Regions from separate parts of the Homo sapiens genome. Here regions 1 and 3 are each linked to region 2. The links come from fine-mapping of genetic effects on gene expression. Tissue or cell type: whole blood. Region 2 holds a variant in brackets; each other region holds the start of a gene. All regions are shown on one strand. Distances are between the middles of the regions.

Evidence for each region. PIP is the estimated chance that this variant, and not a neighbour inherited with it, causes the effect.
Region 1: TRIM8 starts here. The variant in region 2 is fine-mapped to the expression of TRIM8 in whole blood (INTERVAL, PIP above 0.99).
Region 3: ARL3 starts here. The variant in region 2 is fine-mapped to the expression of ARL3 in whole blood (INTERVAL, PIP above 0.99).

Annotation. Positions count from the first base shown.
Region 1 is chr10:102,642,546-102,647,545 of GRCh38, reverse strand. TRIM8 (tripartite motif containing 8) reads right to left here and starts at 3,067. Exons shown (of 6, transcript NM_030912.3): 1 at 2,359-3,067. The coding sequence starts at 2,928. TRIM8-DT (TRIM8 divergent transcript) reads left to right here and starts at 4,357. Exons shown (of 1, transcript NR_186489.1): 1 at 4,357-4,754. RefSeq lists silencers at 1,416-1,632, 2,918-3,897, 3,978-4,077, 4,348-4,407, 4,738-5,000 and enhancers at 1,808-1,907, 2,688-2,817, 2,919-3,674, 3,675-4,429.
Region 2 is chr10:102,671,941-102,680,114 of GRCh38, reverse strand. It overlaps ARL3 (ARF like GTPase 3), which reads left to right. Exons shown (of 6, transcript NM_004311.4): 6 at 3,174-6,384. The coding sequence ends at 3,221. Among named protein-coding and RNA genes, the nearest start is that of TRIM8, 32 kb to the right of the region's middle. RefSeq lists an enhancer at 5,761-6,310. The variant G/AG (reference allele first, on the strand shown) is at 3,853.
Region 3 is chr10:102,711,577-102,716,576 of GRCh38, reverse strand. ARL3 (ARF like GTPase 3) reads left to right here and starts at 2,180. Exons shown (of 6, transcript NM_004311.4): 1 at 2,180-2,304. The coding sequence starts at 2,302. SFXN2 (sideroflexin 2) reads right to left here and starts at 1,941. Exons shown (of 12, transcript NM_178858.6): 1 at 1,896-1,941. RefSeq lists enhancers at 963-1,538, 1,539-2,115 and silencers at 1,901-2,050, 1,869-2,263, 2,331-2,380, 2,421-2,520.

The sequences.
Region 1 (5,000 bases), 31 kb after region 2:
CCCCTCCTCTCCCTCCTGGGAGGGCAGGCAGGGCCCCTATTCCTCCACATTCAATAAGTCAAACTCATACTTGAGTGACACTGGGCTACTGAAGGGTTTCCAACCCCAGTGGCCTGGGGCACCAGAAAGAATCAGGGGCCTGGGGAGGGGGAACCTGGAGAAGGATGAGGCTCAGGCTGCCACTGCAGGGCACAGCTGCTGAACGCACAGAATTGCACATCTGGCCCTGATGCAACCCACTACTTCTGAGCCTGCCCACACCAGGCACAAGAAAGCACGCGCATGCACGCGCACGCACACACACGCACACACGCACACACACACCCTGCGGAGTTGCCGACAAAGTTCAGTGCCTGCTTCCATCCAATCCACGAGTCTGGAAATGAGGGGCCTGCTGGGGGGCACCCCAGGGAATACTCTGCATGCACATGCCACCCACCCACCCCTGCCTGTGCCCTGAACTGTAGAGACAGGAGACAGGTGCATTGGAGGGCGAAGCACACAGTCTCAAAGACATTCAAAAACACAGACACCTAAAGCTATCCTCCTACACCAAGTCAGGTATAATGACGTTTTCTCCCCCACCCCAATTAAAGACATCCCTAGAACTCAGACCAGCTACAGCAGCACTGTGGGTGCGGGCAGGCATCCGCCCATCGCCCAGGTTGCTGCCCCTCCCCTGTTCCTTTCAGCCACATCTCCTTTCCCCTCCTCTCATTTTCCACTGCCAATCCCAGGACAGAACTGGACAGCCCTCCTTTCTCCTGCCTCTGCACTTTTCCCGGCCTCCTCCCCCAGCCCTTCCATCTTTATTAATAGCAGCAGCTTCCCAATACTGGGGAAAGTGTGGGCTGTGCCTGCCCTGAACGGGGATGGAGGACACAGGGGGTGGAGGACACACTTCCTTTAAGAAACCAGAGGCCTATCCTGGCACACAAACCCAGGGCTAGTCCATCCGATTGGAAACTAATTATACAGCAAATCGTATTTGCTGCCCCCGCCCCAGCCTGTGGTGGCCCTCCTGCCTTTTGTTGGTTGTATGTGTATGTTTTTTAATTGCTAAACAGTGACTCATTCTGACTGGTCCCCCCACACAGGAAACAGCCCCATCTCCAATCATGCCCTGAACAGAGCTTCCTCATAGCCAGCCTCCGCACTGGCCTCCACTAACCTCCAGGGATCCCCACCCAGAGACACTCCCAGTCCCACCAGAGTGCAGCCTAGCCCCCAGATATCACACCCAGGCCCCAGGCCCCAAGGTGGGGCTTCAGAGAGGACTCCTCGGTGTCAGGCCAACCCCTTCATTTTGGTATGACTCAACCCTGAAAGCCAGAGGACTGGGGAGGGACCTAGGAGGAGCCCCCTCCACTGAAGGGGACGGAAGTATTGCCTCAGTCCAGCTCCAAAACCAGGCCCAGAGGCCTGAGGGGGGAGGCGGTTTGACATTGGCCGCGGCCGCAGGGTGTATACAATGGGAGGGGACGCGGTTCCGTAATCACCCAGCCGGCAGCCCAGGGGAGCCAGCTGCCTGAAACCAGATTTCAAGGCGGCTCAACCTTAAACCCACAGGATTCTTTTTCCGTCTTCCACTTCCCCTCCCCAAATGTGGGAGGGCGGCGAGAGGGCTGTGCTAGGCGAAAGGGCCAGGATGATGAAGACAGATACTTGAAGGCTTGTTCATGCGGCCCGTGCGACACACAGGCACACAGGGCAGCGATTCTCACACAGGGAGAGCCGGCTCTCGGGAGGAATCCAAATAGCGGAGCCGCTGTCGGGGCCTCGCTGGCTGCCCAGGCCCTGTCCAGAGAGACGGCCGGAGTTCTGCTCTCCCTCTGGAAACTCCCCCCACTCCCCCCCCAGTGTGTTTCCAATAGCGCTGAAAACTAACATGGCTGCTTTTGTTTACTTCCTCATTGGTATGCCAGCATCATGGATCATGTCAGCCACAGCAGCGGCACCGGGACACTCATTACATAAACAGCAGCTGGAGAGGCAGGACCGGGGTCACTGCCTCGGTGACTTCCCGTAGGGCCTACAGCAACAAGACTGGGGGAGGGAGCTGCGCACCACAGAAAAGCAACACCCAGACTCTACCCCTGACGGTCCCACACCCCAATCCCATAAAGCACTCAGAAGACGGACCCTGTGCGCACAGGTGCGAGAATGTACCAAGTAGCGACCCGGGGCCCTTCTTCCCAGGACCCTGTCCCCAAACTTTCAGAGAAGAGTTTGGCCAGGGGCCACTGGCCTGATGTCACAAGAGTCAGCCTGTCGGGATGGGTGGTCCCGGGGCGGGAGAGAGGAAGGGACTGTGTGTCTGTGTGTGTGTGTGTGCGCGCGCGCGCGTAGGGTACTTGCCCGGATTTCATTCCTTCGGATCTCCACGTCGCACACCGAGTGTCCCTGATGCGCGCCGCTGTAGTAGCAGCAGTACTGGCACACGGCCACCTGCTCGGCCTCGCAGTGGTAGAGGCGGTAGGCGTTGTGCTGCGGGCAGCTCCAGGCCCGCACGTCGTCCGCCTCCACCAGGAGGTGCCCGCGGGCGGTGGAGGGCTGCTGCAGGTGCGTCTGCACGTGGGACTGGCAGCAGGGCGCCTCGCAGCGCAGGCAGACCTTCTGCGCGGGCAGCGGGGGGCCGCGGCGGCAGAACACGCAGTGCAGCGCCGCCGGCGGCTTCTCCACGTGCAGGGCATTGAACTTCTCCACGATGTTGGTGAGCTTCAGGTTCTTCTCCAGGCCCGGCTTCTGGTTGTAGGCCTGGTTGCACTCTGGGCAGCGTACGAGGCCGCTGTCCTTGGCCCACGCCTCGCCGATGCAGCCCCGGCAGAAGTTGTGTTTGCACGGCAGCTGCACTGGCTCCACGAAAACGTGCAGGCAGATAGGGCAGATGAGCTCCTCCTCGAAGCAGTTCTTCCAATTCTCCGCCATGGCGGCCGCGGGCAGGGGGCCGGGGCAGGCCTCCCCGACTCCCCAGCCCCGGGGGTCCGTCCGGAGCCGCTGTAGGCCCACCGAGCCCCGAGCTCCGGCCCCAGCCGGCCCCGACGGTCGCTCAGTCAGCAGCGCCTTCCGCGTGCCCGCCCCCCGGAGGAGGGAGCCGCGGTCCTCACGCCGCGCGCGCAGCGGGCTGCGTCTCCTCCTCCTCCCGAGCGCCTAGCGGGAGGCGGCGGACTGCGCCAGGGCCGCGGCCGGGACTCCAGCCTTGGAGGGGAGCGCCGGGGTCCAAATTCCATATAAGAGGCCGCCTCCCCGTCGGCGCGGCTAGGGCAGTGGCGGCCCGCGGCCTGCGCTCGTCCCCGCGGCTGACATTGGGGCGCGCCCCGCGGCAGACGGAGCTTGGGAGCAGCACACTTCTTCCGGCGGCGGCGGCAGCGGCGGCTCCTGCCTGGCTCGTCGGCGCCGCACCTCCCTCGCAGGGGCCGGAGCCCGGGGTCTGCGGGGCCAGGAGGCGAGGGCGGCCGCGCCGAGGGCTGCTAGATCCGGACGGGGCGGGAGGGGCAGGCCGGCGGTCCCCGGGCCACGGTGCAGGCGTCCCCCGGCTGGCTGGCCGGGCGCGGGCTGCGGGGCGCGGGCGGGCCGACTCCGGGGCGCTGCGTGCGCGCAGGGGCAGTCATTCAGATGAAATTCCAGTCCCCGGCCAGAGACACCAGCCCGCCTCTGCCTTCCTCCTCCCTTCACAAATAGAAACGGAAGGGGGAGGGAGAGAAGTGGAAAAAAAGGCAACCGGCGAGGGAGGGAGGGAGAAGCCCCGGCGGCGCTCCGGCCTGACCCCCGGGCGGCTACTTCTGCGCTCCCCCGAGGCCCGGCGCCCCCGCCGCGGAGAGACCCCGCGCGCCCGTCTCCGCGCTGGGCGGGCGCCCGGGCTCTGCCGAGGAAAACAAGGATTGATCAAACTAGAAAGGAATTTTTCTCAACTGCTAATGAACAGGAGGCTCGGCTCCCGGCCCTCCCCTCCCCTCCCCCGGCCCTCCCCCTTCGCCCCCCCGGCCCCCTCCTCCCCACTTTCTTTTCTTCTCGGCCTCTGCTGGGGCCTGGAAGGCTCGGGGCTGCGGTCGGAGCCAGCCTGCGGCGGCGGGGCCAGGCCGAGCCGCCACCCTCAGCGCCCAGCCATCTTGGGCTCCGCGGCGGCGGCCGGGGTCTGGGCGCGCTCGCTGAGGGCCCCGCGGCGTCCTCTCGCTCCTGATTCTTTTTTTTTTTTTTTTGGTGGGATTTTTTTTTTTCCAAGGGGAGGGCTGGCGGCCTCCAACAAATTAGGAGAGAGAGAGGGAGAAAATGCCAAGTCCCGATTTCTCTCCACCTCTGCTCCACCCACCCCGGTCCTGTCCAAAAAATAAAAGAAGATGAGAATTGGAAGAAGTCGGCAGAAAGGCGAGAGCCCGCGGTCCCCGGCTGCTGCCCAGGCGACGCGTCCGGGGCGGGCCCGCACCCGTTGCTCGGTCCGAGGTCCGTCTGTCTGCCCGCGGCTTCTCAAGGGAGGGGAGGGCGCTTCGGGCAGGGTCTCCGCAGCCGCTGTCGCCTCAGAGCTTTATCCTCAGATCAAAAAAGAAAAAACAGGAAGAAAAAAATCCCAACCCCAACACTCTCATCACAGCCACCTTCAGCCATCTTGCGCGTATTATTATTTCAGGAATAATCTGTTTAATAAAAATACCTGCGTATCCAGCCCCTCCCCCGCGTCCTGGGGTCCCCGCCCCCTTTTAATAATAATCTCGATAATAAAAACGATCGGCGGGCCGGGCAGTCCGTGGCGGCCCTTTCCTGCCTCGACTTGCTCGGGCCCGGCTCTCCCCCCGCGAAGGGGCGCCCCGGGGTGGGGGTGCGTCCCCGTCACCCGCGCGGGGAGGAAAGGGCGCCCTCGCCGCCGCCGCGAGGAAGGCGGCGGCGGAGATGCCGCGGCCCGCGGGACCAGCCGGAGGGGCACTCGGGGGTCCCGGGGCCCCCGCCACGGCCCGGCCTGGGAGTCCGCAGCCGGCCGTATACAATGGGTTCGGAGCAGAGCGGGG
Region 2 (8,174 bases):
AATATTAGTCGGGCATGGTGGCGGGCGCCTGTAGTCCCAGCTACTTGGGAGGCTGAGGCAGGAGAATGGCATGAGGCGGAGCTTGCAGCGAGTCGAGATCATGCCACTGCACTCCAGCCTGGGCGACAGAGCAAGACTCCGTCTCAAAAAAAAAGCCTTCCTTGCCAGGTGAAAGCAAGAGTGGTATGGAACATTTATTTAAACATAAGAAGCAGAAGGTTCCTCCTCTTGCAAGTATGTTTTCTCTAAATGTAGCATTTCCACTGGAGGAGGTGGTCTGGGTGGATGGTTAATATGTGAGGATTGTGCAGCCAGGCAGATAACCAGGCCTCTGCATATACAGATACCCACAGCCCAGGAATCTTGAGAACTGAATGGCCCATAACAACCTCTGGCACTATCGGAGCTGCAGGGAGGCTTGGCTGGGGCTACTCCAGTCTCAGGCCCCTGTTTTTAGCGGAAGTCACAAGGAGGATAAAACCAGAATTCCTCCTTTTCCCATCTTCAGGGTGCTTCCCAGCTCCTCTTTAAGCTTGGGGCAGAACCCTTCACCCGGCAGGTACCCACATCCGTGGAGAACTGGTAAGCAGCTCTGGAGCACCACGCTGGGCACCACAGCTTGCCATTGCCCTGCTCTGTCCTGTGCCTTCATCTCCTCAGCTGTGATAGAGAAATAACACCAGCACCTACTTTGCAGGCTTCTACAAGGATTGACTTAAAAGATGTGAATTAAGTGGGCTGTGGGCTAGACATCATGTTAGGTTCTGGGAATATAATCTCCAGCAAGTCTGATGGGAGCCTCCCCTAGGGGAGCTTGGGCACCACCATTGCCTTTCCTTTCCAGGAGGCAGCTTGACAAAGCTTGCCCTGATGTGATTGACAAAGCTTGCCCCAGCTAGATCCATGGCCACGTGATTGAGGAGGTACCATTGTTGGCCAATGCCTCCCCTTCCCTCCCCTCCCACCTCCAGCCCAGTTCTCTTCTGCCCAGCACAAGAAAGATGCCACTCCCCAAGCACTAGCCGCTTCAGATTAGAGGGGCCTCCCGGGCCCAGGGCAGCCACAGGGCTCGGTCCCCTGTTTACGCTCCCTGTGCTTCCCACACTCAGGGTTGCAGCGGCAGCTGCAGGGGCCCAGGCCGGGGGTCAGCTGGCAGGGACTGGCCTCTGTGCGCCCTCTGTTGGCAGGACAGTGGCTAGAAGGGCTTCACCACTGCTGGCCCTCACAGGCACCTGGAGACACCAGACACTGTCCCTCAGCAGGGCTCTGCCGTTTGAACCCTCCTTTGCCTCCATAACAGAGACCCGGCATAAAACCACCCCACACCCTCCACCTTCTGCTTTGGGCTCCTGCAGCTGAGTAAATATTTTTCCTATCTCTTTGCCTGCATTCATGTTCAGTTATATGCAATAATCTCTCCTTAATCAGCCATAAAGCAAGGAAAAGGCAAAGCGCTATTCACATAGTGTGGGCACACTGTCCTTGATTTCTCTGAGAAGATGGTTTGAGTGCGAGCCTCCGTAGAGGAGAGAGTGTTGAGGTGCCCACCTTTGAGTGTTTGTGTGAGCCCCTGAAGGTGGAAAGTGCTATGTAAGTGCTGAGCTATTCAGCTTCCCAGGCGAGAGAAGATGCTTATCTTATTCATCCCTCTTTTATTTGTAAAATCTTTTTTGTCTCTTGACAGGTGATCTTTTTTTTTTCCTGGAAACCAATTAGCTACTAAAATTAAACATGCTTCTCTTTAAATTAATCCTTTTCATAAAATGGTCTTAAAATTGGCCTTAGCTTCTCAGAGTAAGTAGCTGACCCCATTGTAATTAGAGATGCGTTTGGAGTCCTCATTTCTCCCACCTCGGCATTCCTCTGCCCTTCCCCCTGCTGCTGCCAGGTGCTGTCCACCTTCGGGCTTTCGGCGCCACCGGCCTCATCTTGGCAAAGGTCAGATGTCGGCTCTGGGACAGCCGTCAGATTATCTAGTTCTGCTGCCCAAGTGCACTGACAGCAACTGGCAGAGTTGTAATCACTGTAAATTCAGGTGACGGTCAGATGAGCCAGGAGAGAGGATGCCTGCTGGTTGTTTTTTTGCAGTGATGTATTGTTTATGGGATTAATGTTCCGAATGGCCAAGGGTGTCAGCTGATATTTATTACTGTAAGCTGTCTCAGCTGTTCAGGTTCGGCAGCTAGATCCATGGCCACAGGAAATGTGGGACTCGGTGGCATGTCCAGTATGGCTGATGTGTGCAGATGTAGCTGGGACCTCCGTGAGCCTCTGTTACAGATGCAAGGGGAAGGACTCATGGCAGCAGCTGCCTTGGATTTTGTTCAGGGCTTCTGAGGGAACTCCACACACTCTTGAAGGTTGGGGAGACTCTAGGGAAGGGGAGAGTGTCCAGGTTTGGCTCCAAAGGGGGTTGGGAAGGAGTTCACCTCTGACAGGCCTGGCATCCGTAGGAATTATGCTGCCTGCCAGGTAGCTGTAGGCATTGTGTGATTTTTACCTTGGTCCCTCTTCAGCCTTCTAAGAGAGGGCGCTTTCAAGGTCATTGTGCCTTTAAGGGAACCTTCTCCCCAGTCCCTCTGGATGCTGGTGCTTAAAGCTATAAGAAGCGGGCCAGACCCTTTTAAACCTATCTGGAGTGCTGCAGGAAGAGAAGTAAATGCACATCGCCCTGGTGTGTGCCTCGCAACACTCACTGCAGTAGGTTTGTTTTTCCAAAAAGAAATTTAATTTAACCCAAGTGTACACTGTCACACTGTAAACACATGGGGCACCAAAAGGGTGGCTTATTGAATTTAATGCCCTGGCAAAGGTCACCTTTTAGAAAAAGCCAAAAATGGCTGGAATCTTTCCTGATAGCTCTTCAGTCAGGCTTTGGATGCAGGCAGATGTGTTTATTTTTTCAGAGGGAGTTCCTGAGGACCCATCTCAAGTTCAGGCGCTGGGCATCCCCCTCCCATCGCCCTCTTGTGCTCTCAGAGACCTCCCTCCTCCTCCTCCTGGGAGGTCACTGTCCCTGGTCACCCAGGTGGGCCCCTGAGCCAAGCAAACTCCCTAAAGCTGGCGGTCTGGGAGGGAGGGCCTGGGACCCCCACTGCCCGCCCCTCCAGGCTAGAGTGTGTGGTGCTTTTCTTATAACTAACACTGCCTTTCTCTGCCCATTTCCCTCAAAGGATGGCATGAACTGGGTCTGCAAAAATGTCAATGCAAAGAAGAAATAAAATCTAGACGAATGGAGATGCAGGAGCTGCGGGAGCCGAATTCGGTCCTGAAAAACACTAATTTGCTGCTTTCTGACCAAATGTTTTTCCATCTGTGTACAGCTCCAGCTGTTTGAAGAGAGGGAACAACACGGTTTAGAAAGAATCCCCATTCCAGCAGTAGATTTAACTGATCTCTGAGGTTCAGTATCATTTTTCAAATAAAGGAATTATATTATTTCCTCTGCATAATTGAAATAGTATTAAATGTCTCAAAGCACATGATTAGAAAATGAGATCTTTTAAATGAGCAAGAGATTGCATTGCAGTTTAGACAATTCCAGTGGGCTTTTTTTTCCTCTCAAAAAAAAAAAAAGAAAAAGAAAAAGAGGAAGAAGCAGCTTTGCTGAGTTCATTTATTTACTGACCCGTCCCTTGCATTCCCTCCATGGTTTTGAAACCACAGACAGTGTTTGCTGGTGCTGTCAGTGATTTTTACCGTCACTAGCCCAGCCAGGCTTCAGTCTGTCCGACAGGAAGCTGCTGGGTGGGGGTGGGGGGAGAAAAGGCAGATAATTAAACCATCTCATCGTCTTGCAGGTCGGAGACTACGTATGTAATCCTCACTCTTTGGACAGAAAAAAAAAAAAAA[G/AG]TCTTTCTTGCAGACAAGTCACTACAGAAACATACCCCATCCCACCCACCCCTGCCTCTGCCCCAGCCAGCCACACAGAGAAGCAAATTCTTATGACTTTTGACTGTAATGACATCTGGAATGTAAGGAGAGGTGGGAGGTTTAATTCCAGAAAAATTACAAGGTCCTTAAAAAGCTCTCACATCGAGGGCTCAGGCTAGCGTAAACAGGCTTTCTCCAGCTCAGTGGAGCAGTGAGCAGCCGACTCTGAGATTAGCTGGCTTCTCCACGGCCGTCCTATAGACAGGATTTCTAAAGCTCAAAGAATTCTGTGTTTAAACGATCACAATAGGCCGCTGCTATCAGATTTTAGAAATAAATGCAGCTTTACCATGAACCTGCTCCACTGAGAAAAGCCAGGCAGATCGATTTTTAGATCAATTTTTACAGTGCTGGCAACTTGGTGGTGTGGGATGCTCCTGGATGGAGAGGGTTTGCTGCTGGGGAGGACATGGGTGTGTGTGTGACTGCAGGGGTCGTGTCCAAGGAATCAAGAGTCACCCCAGCTGCTGGGCTCCTCTGCCTCTCTGCAGCAGAATGTCCGTCCTCTGTTGATTGATTGGAGAGGAATAGCAGAACATTTCTCCTGCCCCTCGTTGCAAAACGAGCTTGTTTCCCTGAACCTCAGAAATCCTCAGCTTCAAACATGGGGAAACAGGCCAGAGCATTGCCCGGCTCCTGAATTAAACTCTGTTCTGGTGCCTGAGCTCAGGGGTTTTCAGAGAATGAATAAGAGACTGTCCAGTGACTGGTGGGTCCCTGGGGGCCAGCTGCCTTCTCATCCTGGGAGGTGGCCCTTCCCAAGCCCATCAGGGCGTGTGAGCAGACTGAAGGGGCCGCTGCAGCCCCTGGCCCTCAATACCCAGCTGCTTCTGGCTAAGAGTGCAGCAGAGACTGAGGCATAGCCAGCTTCAAAAGCGATCTGACATGAAAGTCATTAACAAAGCCAGCCGTGAAAAGGTGCCCCAGAGTTGCTGTGGACAGACCTGTAAGGACTTGCAAAACAAAAGAAAGTGAGGGGTTTTTTTAACCTCAGAGCTAGCTGCTCTCTGCAGCCTCCTCCACTGGCTTCTCTGGCTCACCCAAGCTCTCCCTTACAGAGGCAACACAGAATTATAAGGAATCAGAAATCCCCCTTCTACCAGGCTGCAAATGTGGCTCTAGCACTTGCAAATTGTTTTTTCTTCCGAATAGTTCAGCAGGGACAAGTTATCTGAGGGGCAAAATGCCTGCTTGGAGGTCTGCAATTTTGGAACACTGCAGTATGGAACTTTGGCATTGGAGGGTCTGTAAAATATTTTTGTTCTTTTACCACCAACTTAGGGGACTGTTTTAAAGAGCCATCCCAAGGCCTCTCCTAGCAGGCAGAAGCCACTCCTCTGATAACGGCCTCTGTAAATGTTCTGATTTGCTCTCAGCTGCAGAGACACAGAGACACTGCAGATGTCACACGCTTTCATCTTCCCTTTGAGCCCTTTTGAACCCTCCTGGGGCTCTGGGGTAGATGAGAGAAGCCTGAAAAAGGCAGAGTTTGAAAGCTCCCATTTAAAAACAAAATACTTTTTAAAGCCCTCTTGCCTCTTCCCTGCCCACTCCTGCCCCCTGACCAGAAGACAGAATTTGAAGCTGGAAAGGGAAGACCCCTTTTCCCCTCCTCCTGTCCCCAGTGAGTCTTAGCGAGACTTTTGCCCTGCGCACAATTGCATCTGAATGTGCGGGGGAGAGGGCTGGGGGCCGGAGGGCAGGCAAGGCCTGGGGGGTGCTCGTGATATGTGCTCAAGCCAGTTGTGGGAAAAACTCGAGTCCTCCCCTCCTCCCGACCTACCCCGTGTGGCTGCTTTTGGCTGGATTCCCTGCACCCAGTGCAACACACCCTTTCCCCTTCACTCTCCCTTGGTTACTATGGAAACAAGGGTGTCATTGATGTGGGCTGAGCTGGGGAACATGTCGGTGCACAGCTGAAAGTCAGCGATTATGCCGGCGGTTAGAAATGTGCCAGGGTTAAAGGAGTCCGCAGCTCCCACGGCTGCTGGGAGGACATGGTCCTGCCCCCTTCCTTCCTCCCTCCCTCCGTCTCCACTTCTCTCTCCTTGCTTTTGACAAATTTCTTTATTCCCCTCTGGACTAAAGTAGTGGCTATTTTTGTGCCACTCTGCGCCCCACCCTCACTGTTGGCCGCTCCTTATCCGGCCTGGCCTGGAGGGTGACACCATGTCACCCTCACCAGGACTCGTCTCTCCATTCCCGTCAGAGTTTGCTTTGATTTCCCTTTCCTTTCCTTCTCGGGGACCAGTTCTTACTTCCTTTTATTTTTAGCTCTGCACTCCATGTGGTTTCAGGGTTCAGTCTGATCCATCAAAAGGTTCTTTTTTTATAATCCCTTTTGAAAATGATAATCAAAGGAAGAGATGTGGTGTTTGGTCATGTGGAAAACTCAATGTATAATTTAGACGTCTGTCAAAAATCCGACAAATAAAATTTAGCTGGAACGAAGGCAGCCTGGAATGTGTTGTGTTCTTTGCTGAAGCTCAGAGAGGGCCTGAAATGTGTTTGTCCTTTCAGGGGTTAGCTTTCTTCAAGAGGTTTTTTCCAGAAGGATATATATATAAAATAGGATACCAACAATAGCAATAATAGCCCTTCATTAAGCCCCTCCTACGTGCCGGGCACTTCAGATACATCGTGGTGAGCATTAGTCCCCCTTTGCAGCAGAGGACATTGAGACATTTGCCCCAGTTAAGGAATTTGCCTGAAATCACAGAGCCTTTAAGTGCAGGTGGGGCCTGGAGCCTGGGTCTCAATGCTCAGCAAGCTGCCGCCTCTGGAGAACAAAAACAGTCAATGGCAAGGCCGGATCACGCCTGTAATCCCAGCACTTTCAGAGGCCAAGGCAGGTAGATCTCCTGAAGTCAGGAGTTCAAGACGAGCCTGACCAACATGGTGAAATCCCGTCTCTACTAAAAATACAAAATTAGCCGGGCGTGGTGGCACGTGCCTGTAATCCCAGCTGCTTGGGAGGCTGAGGCAGGAGAATTGCTTGAACCCAGGAGTCAGAGGTTGCAGTGAGCTGAGATCGTGCCATTGCACTCCAGCCTGGGCAACAGGAGAAAACTCCATTGCAAAAAAAAAAAAAAAAAAAAAATTTGTCAATGGCTCATCTCCCAGCAGCCTCAGCCCCCCCAGCCTCTGAGTGCTACTTCTGCCCAGCCTCCTCCCCTCAGCCTCTGACAAGCACTGCTCCCCTGGGTTCCCTGCCCCAGGTGTTGGGTGTCCTCTGCTCACACAGCACAACCATAGACTGGGTTTCATCCTTGGCCAAGTCCAGCCCAACAGACAGGAAAAAGGGAGAAGAAATAATTAGCAAAGTTAGGGCCTTCAGGGAGACTTGCAGTTACATAGTACCTAATACTGGATCTTCCATTTACAGAGGGTTCCGAGAGGGAACAGACCTGCCCAGTGTTACATGGAAGGTGCAGAGTTGGCAGCTGTCCCGGGCTCTGCCCTCTGGAGCAGAAGAGTTCGTTGTCCCTTCAGCAGGCTAGAGACACAGCAGCACAGCTGGTCCCAAAGGGCCTCACCATTTGTGTGTGTGTGTGTGTGTTTTGTGTTTTTGAGACAGGACTTCGCTCTGTCACCCAGGCTGGAGTGCAGTGGCACAGTCACAACTCACTGCAGCCTCAACCTCCTGGGCTCAGGCCATCCTCCCAACTCAGCCTCCCAAGTGGCTGGGACTAGAGGCATGTACCACCATGTCTGGCTAATTTTTTTTTTTTTTTTTTGAGACAGTCTCGCTCTGTCGCCCAGGCTGGAGTGCAGTGGCGCAATCTCAGCTCACTGCAAGCTCCGCCTCCCGGGTTCATGCCATTCTCCCACCTCAGCCTCCCTAGTAGCTGGGACTACAGGCGTCTGTCACCACGCCGGCTAACTTTTGGGGTTTTTTTGTATTTTTAGTAGAGATGGGGTTTCACCGTGTTAGCCAGGATGGTCTCAATCTCCTGACCTCGTGATCTGCCCACCTCGGCCTCCCAAAGTGCTGGGATTACAGGCGTGGGCCACTGCGCCCGGCCTTTAAAGAGCAAGCTGTGGGCAGAACTAGCTGGTAGCTGGAAGCAGGAGAAAGAAGAATTAGGGTTGCCAGATACATTACAGAACATTCAGTTAAACTTGAATTTCAGATAAACAATGAATAGTTTTTAATTCAAGTATATCCCATGCAATATTTGGGACATCAGTATAACATTAGAAAAATGCATTGTTTACCTTAAATTCAAATTTAACTGGCC
Region 3 (5,000 bases), 38 kb before region 2:
AAAAAAAAAAAAAAGGAAAGAAAGAGAGGGAAACAAAGAGAAAAAAAAAGTAATAGACTACTGCCACCTCTGACGTAATGCTCATCCTTCCCAGAAAGAGCAGATTTTCTCTGGCAAATGGTATCAGAGATCAGAAAACAAGCTTCCAAATTCCTTCTGAGGTATCCTCTTACAAGCAGAAGTGCACAAGATTACTGTTTGTAGCCCCAGGTAGGGAGAAAAACGAAACATCATCGCTGGTACTCACATCAGAGGAAGATCAAGGTAGCCAAAGACCCCAGAAGGTCAGACACAAAGACCACTGAGACAGGCAAGGATTAAGGTCAAGGCTGCCTAGAGCAAGCTGGAAAATGAGGGTAATAATTACAAGAGCAGGCCCAGGTATAGGCTTATGGGTACTCGTCTGACTCCAAGGCAAGTGGGCTGTTAGGCACCAGACAACTTAGAAAGAGCAACCTCCCTTGCCTTTTTCACAAAAGGGCCAACAGTCTGGAGATGAGTAGATTATAGGGGTTTGTGCTCCTGTATCACCTCCATTCATCACCTCCTTAGTCAAGGCTCTGAACTGCTTTTTCTCTCCAAGGATCTGAAGCAGGTATGCAAGCAGCAGATGTTGATTTTTGTTTTCATTTTTTTTTTTTTTTTTGAGGCAGGGTCTTGCTCTTTCACCCAGGCTGGAGTACAGTGATGTGATAATAGCTCCTGGGCTCAAGCAATCCTCCAGCCTCAACCTCCCGAGTAGCTAGGACTACAAGTGCGCCACGGAACCTGGCTAATTAAAAAAAATTTTTTTTTGTAGAGGCAGGGTCCTACTGTGTTGCCCGGGCTGGTCTCCAACTCCTGGGCTCAAGCCTTCCTCCCCTTCCACCTCTCAAAGTGCTGGGATTATAGGCATGAGCCACTGCGCCTGGCCGCAATTACCAATTTCTAGGGGTTGTGAAAATGAAATTTGGTATGAAATGTATTTCATTAGGAAGGATGTAATTTCCATACGGGCTGATTTTGTCCACTGCTGTGTCTCCAGCGTCTAGAACAGGGCCTAGCACGTTTGTGTAAACTCTTCTTATAGTCCTCTGCATCGGGAAAGGGATGGGAGGTAGCACTTCCCAACCCACCCCAGTGTCCCACTTGCTCTTCCTTGGCTAAAAATGCAGGCTCATTTTTGCCTCCTCCAGGACTACAGATGGTACGCGGTCCTGTCCAAAGCAGCTTAGCAAAACCGGCCAGAGGCTGGGCACAGTGGCTCACCACTTTGGAACACCTGTAGTCTCAGCACTTTGGGAGGCCTAGGCGGGCGGATGGCTTGACCCCAGGAGTTCGAGCCCAGCCTGGGCAACATGGCGAAACTCCGTCTCTACAAAAACAAAATACAAAAAATTATCCAGGCGTGGTGGCGCCCGCCTGCAATCCCAGCTACTCGAGAGTCTGAGGCGGGAGAATCGCTTAAGCCTGTGAGGCAAAGGCTGCAGTGAGCCGAGATCGCGCCACCGCACTCCGGCCCGGGCGACAGAGCGACACCCTGTGTCAAAACAAAAACCGGGCCGATCCCCAAAACGCCTTTCACCTGTGCTTTCAGCTCACCTCAGGGCTCAGGGCCAGCCCCCAGGCTGCTTCTTGCCCTCCGACAGACGGCCTCCCCCCATCGGTACTCCCCCATCCCGGACAGCTCGTAACGCCCCAGCCGCTCGGCCTGGCACTCCTAGGCAATGGGGGTCAGAGCAGAGGGGCCCATCTGCAGCCCCAGGGCGCACTTCGCGCCACGTGGCTTCTGCAGGTGGAAGTCCAGCCCGCGCTGCAGCCCCGCCTGGGCAGTCAGGACAGCAATCTCAGCACCCACCCGAGATGTGGGGATTGGAGGTAGACAGGGCGAGCGCCATTGTCCCAAGGCCCCTTACCTGGTCCCGGGACAAATGCCACCAGTTACAGCCCGCCTTGAAAACTGGCCCGGGTGAGAGGAGGACCTGGGCTGGGGAACTGCCCCCACGCCCGCCCCACGCCCCTCCTTTTCGACCAATCCCAGGCCGGGAGGCTCCCGCCAGCCACGTGGGCAGGCTTTCTCCACTCCCTGGTCCAGGCGAGCCGGCGGCGGCCTCTGCAGCTCCCGTAGCCCGCCCACTGCGTGGGCGGGCGCCTTAGCGCACTTGCGCACTCTGGGGAAAGCGGAGCTGCACCCCGCCCCGTATTGCTGCTCAGCTCCTCAGCTGTGCGTGCGAGGGACGTCGGGGGCGGCGCCGCAGCAGTTGCCCCTGGTAACGGGGGAGGCAGCAGGAGGAGGAGGAGGAGGAGGGACTCGGCGGGAGGATGGTGAGTGTGGGGGCCTGGGCCCCCTTGGAGCCGGCCGGTTATCCCCCTCCCGTCCCCAGGCCCAGGGCGGAGCACTGCGCTTAAAGCCAAGGAGGGAATGGGACGTCGCTCAGCCTGCTATCTGGGTTGTGGACTGATTTCGGGGGTCGGCGGGGAGACCCGAGGGTGGGCCCTGGAGGGAGGCCTGGGCCTGGAGAGGAAGGCGGGGCTTGCAGCGGGTCCGAGGCTTGGGGAAGGGGCTGGCAGAGTGCGCGGCTGGCCGGGTGCGGAGCCCGGGCTCCATCATTACTCTGGGGACAGGGGTGAGGGCGGATCCCAGGAACTGCGGAGAGCAGCTTTCGCTAGCAGGCTTAGACTTCCCGGGCAATCGGTCTCGCGGCTTTGCAGTAAAGTGGGGTTCGTCTGGAGCCCGGCCAGAAGCGGAGAGAAGGCCGGCCCCATTGGCTCTGAGGTCGCCCTGGCGGTAGCAGGGGAGATGGTAGCCTAGCTCTCCTCCTTCTCGCGCTGTGCGGGCCCCTGGGGGGTAGGGAAGTAAGTCCCACGACACAAAGGGGTGCCGCTTGGAAGGGATGCCTGGTGGATTTTACGCCGTCTTGGTGTCTGCGTGGCGGGTGCGCTTCCTCAGTCCCGAATTATTTAGTTATTTGCTGAGAGTTTTGCAGGATCTGATTGTTGGTGATGACCGATTTTTCATTCAATACATAATCCATGTTGATGAAGACATATTAGCTGCTCCGTCTCTAGAATTTCCTTCGAAACCTTTTGCAGTCTCCTCTTGCGTGTGACCATACCAGGACCAAAAGATCTTAATCCTAGCTTGAGTTCTCCAAACTGAAAAGAACGAGAAGTTAAAAATGGAGATCGAACTTCAATCCGGGGCAAGGCTTTTCTCTGTCAGTCCCAATTAAAGCTTTCCCAAATTCTAAATTATGGTTGTGACAGATCTGACCGTTGACACTCTGTTTCTTGTTAATGTCTGTACAGTTAGTTGGAGGGAGTTAAAATGGAATTGAGTAATTTTAGAGCTATCAAAGAAAAATTGATTTTGAACACTTAAAGCAGGTTAGTTGGCTGCAAAGAGCCTGTCATCAAACTTATAGTCACTGCTCCAACTCTCTTCCTAGTTCCTTTCTTGACTTTTAGAAATGTTGAGCCATTTCTGTTGATTTAAGAAGTAAAAAAAAAAACAAAAAAACTAGATGCCCAGGAAAAAAAAAAATAGATGTATGTTTGGTCAGATTATCCAGTGAGTAGATTTAGAAAGGAAAAAAAAAACTCAATTGATTTTACATTGTCAGATTGTTAAAGAAGTAGGGTTATTTGATCTGAAGTTGCCAATCACATTTCACACTTGCTACACTTGCAGTTTTTTTTTAACCTCAGGCTAAACAGATTTTTACAACTGTTTCTTTTTCTTAATCATTTATACGTGAGCTGTCCTTTTAAAGTTAAAGTTTTTCTCAACAAATGAGTACAAACATAAATATTTACCCAGAAAATAGCTAGAATTGGAATGAAAAGGGCATGCCGAACCAACAGAGATTGAGATTCATCATTATGGATGAGAAGTGCATGAGAGTTGGCTAACTTTTCCCAGTTTGTTGATCAATTAAGTGTACTGTGTAATCCATGATTGTTTAATTTATAATTACAGGCCACAGTAAATTAACCACTGCCCATGTTTCCAGGTGCAAATTGGCACAGTATACAACAAATTTACAGTGTATATACAACACTGTTGTATACAACTGTTGTGTTCAATGATGAAAACAGATTTTGTTTTTCTTTTTTCCTTTTTCCTAAGATGAACAATAAGAAATTAAGACAAATTATTCCGGATTCTTTATCTGGTTTCCCAAAAACATTTTTTTTCTATCTCCACAAGCGTGAGCTGTTCTTAAAACTTGAAGTGAAACACTGAATTTAGTCAGTCGTGTGACTTAAGTGTATCCCATCTGGTATCCCATGAGCCCCCATGGTTAACTGTACAACTGAAGCGTGAACCCCAAGGTTTTTTTGGTTTTTGTTTTAAACTTCAGCTGTGACAAATACATATTTTTTTTCAAATTTGGGTAACTGTGGCAAAAACCCAAATATGGGTTTCTCTGAACATTTAGAGTCAGCTATTTTACCCCTGCTTTACAGTGCCAGGTTCTTGATGAATTACTAAAATACTAAAATGACAGTAATTTTAGCACGTAACTAACCACTTATATTTAACATATGATTCCTTCATTCAGTAATTATTTATGGAGCACTTTCTACATATATGGAGCTTGTGGTCGTTCTCAAGCATGTTCAACATTTGAAGATTGTTCCCAACAGTTACTTATGTTTTCTGGTTAGAAAATGGCCCGTGAAAAATTATTTTAAAAAAATAAACAAAACACGAGGGTAGTCTTTTCAGTGGCTGTTATGTGTCATGCTTTACATACATGACCTCATTTCATCCTCATAGCATCATCTCTTGAGATGTAAGTATTGTTCCTGTTTTCTTCTTTTTTTTTTCTTTTTTTGAGACGGAGTCTTGCTCTGTCACCCAGACTGGAGTGCAGTGGCGCGATCTCCGTTCACTGCAAGCTCCGCCTCCCGGGTTCACGCCATTCTCCTGCCTTAGCCTCCGCAGCAGATGGGACTATGGGCGCCCGCCACCACGCCCGGCTAATTTTGTGTGTGTGTGTTTTTAGTAGAGACGG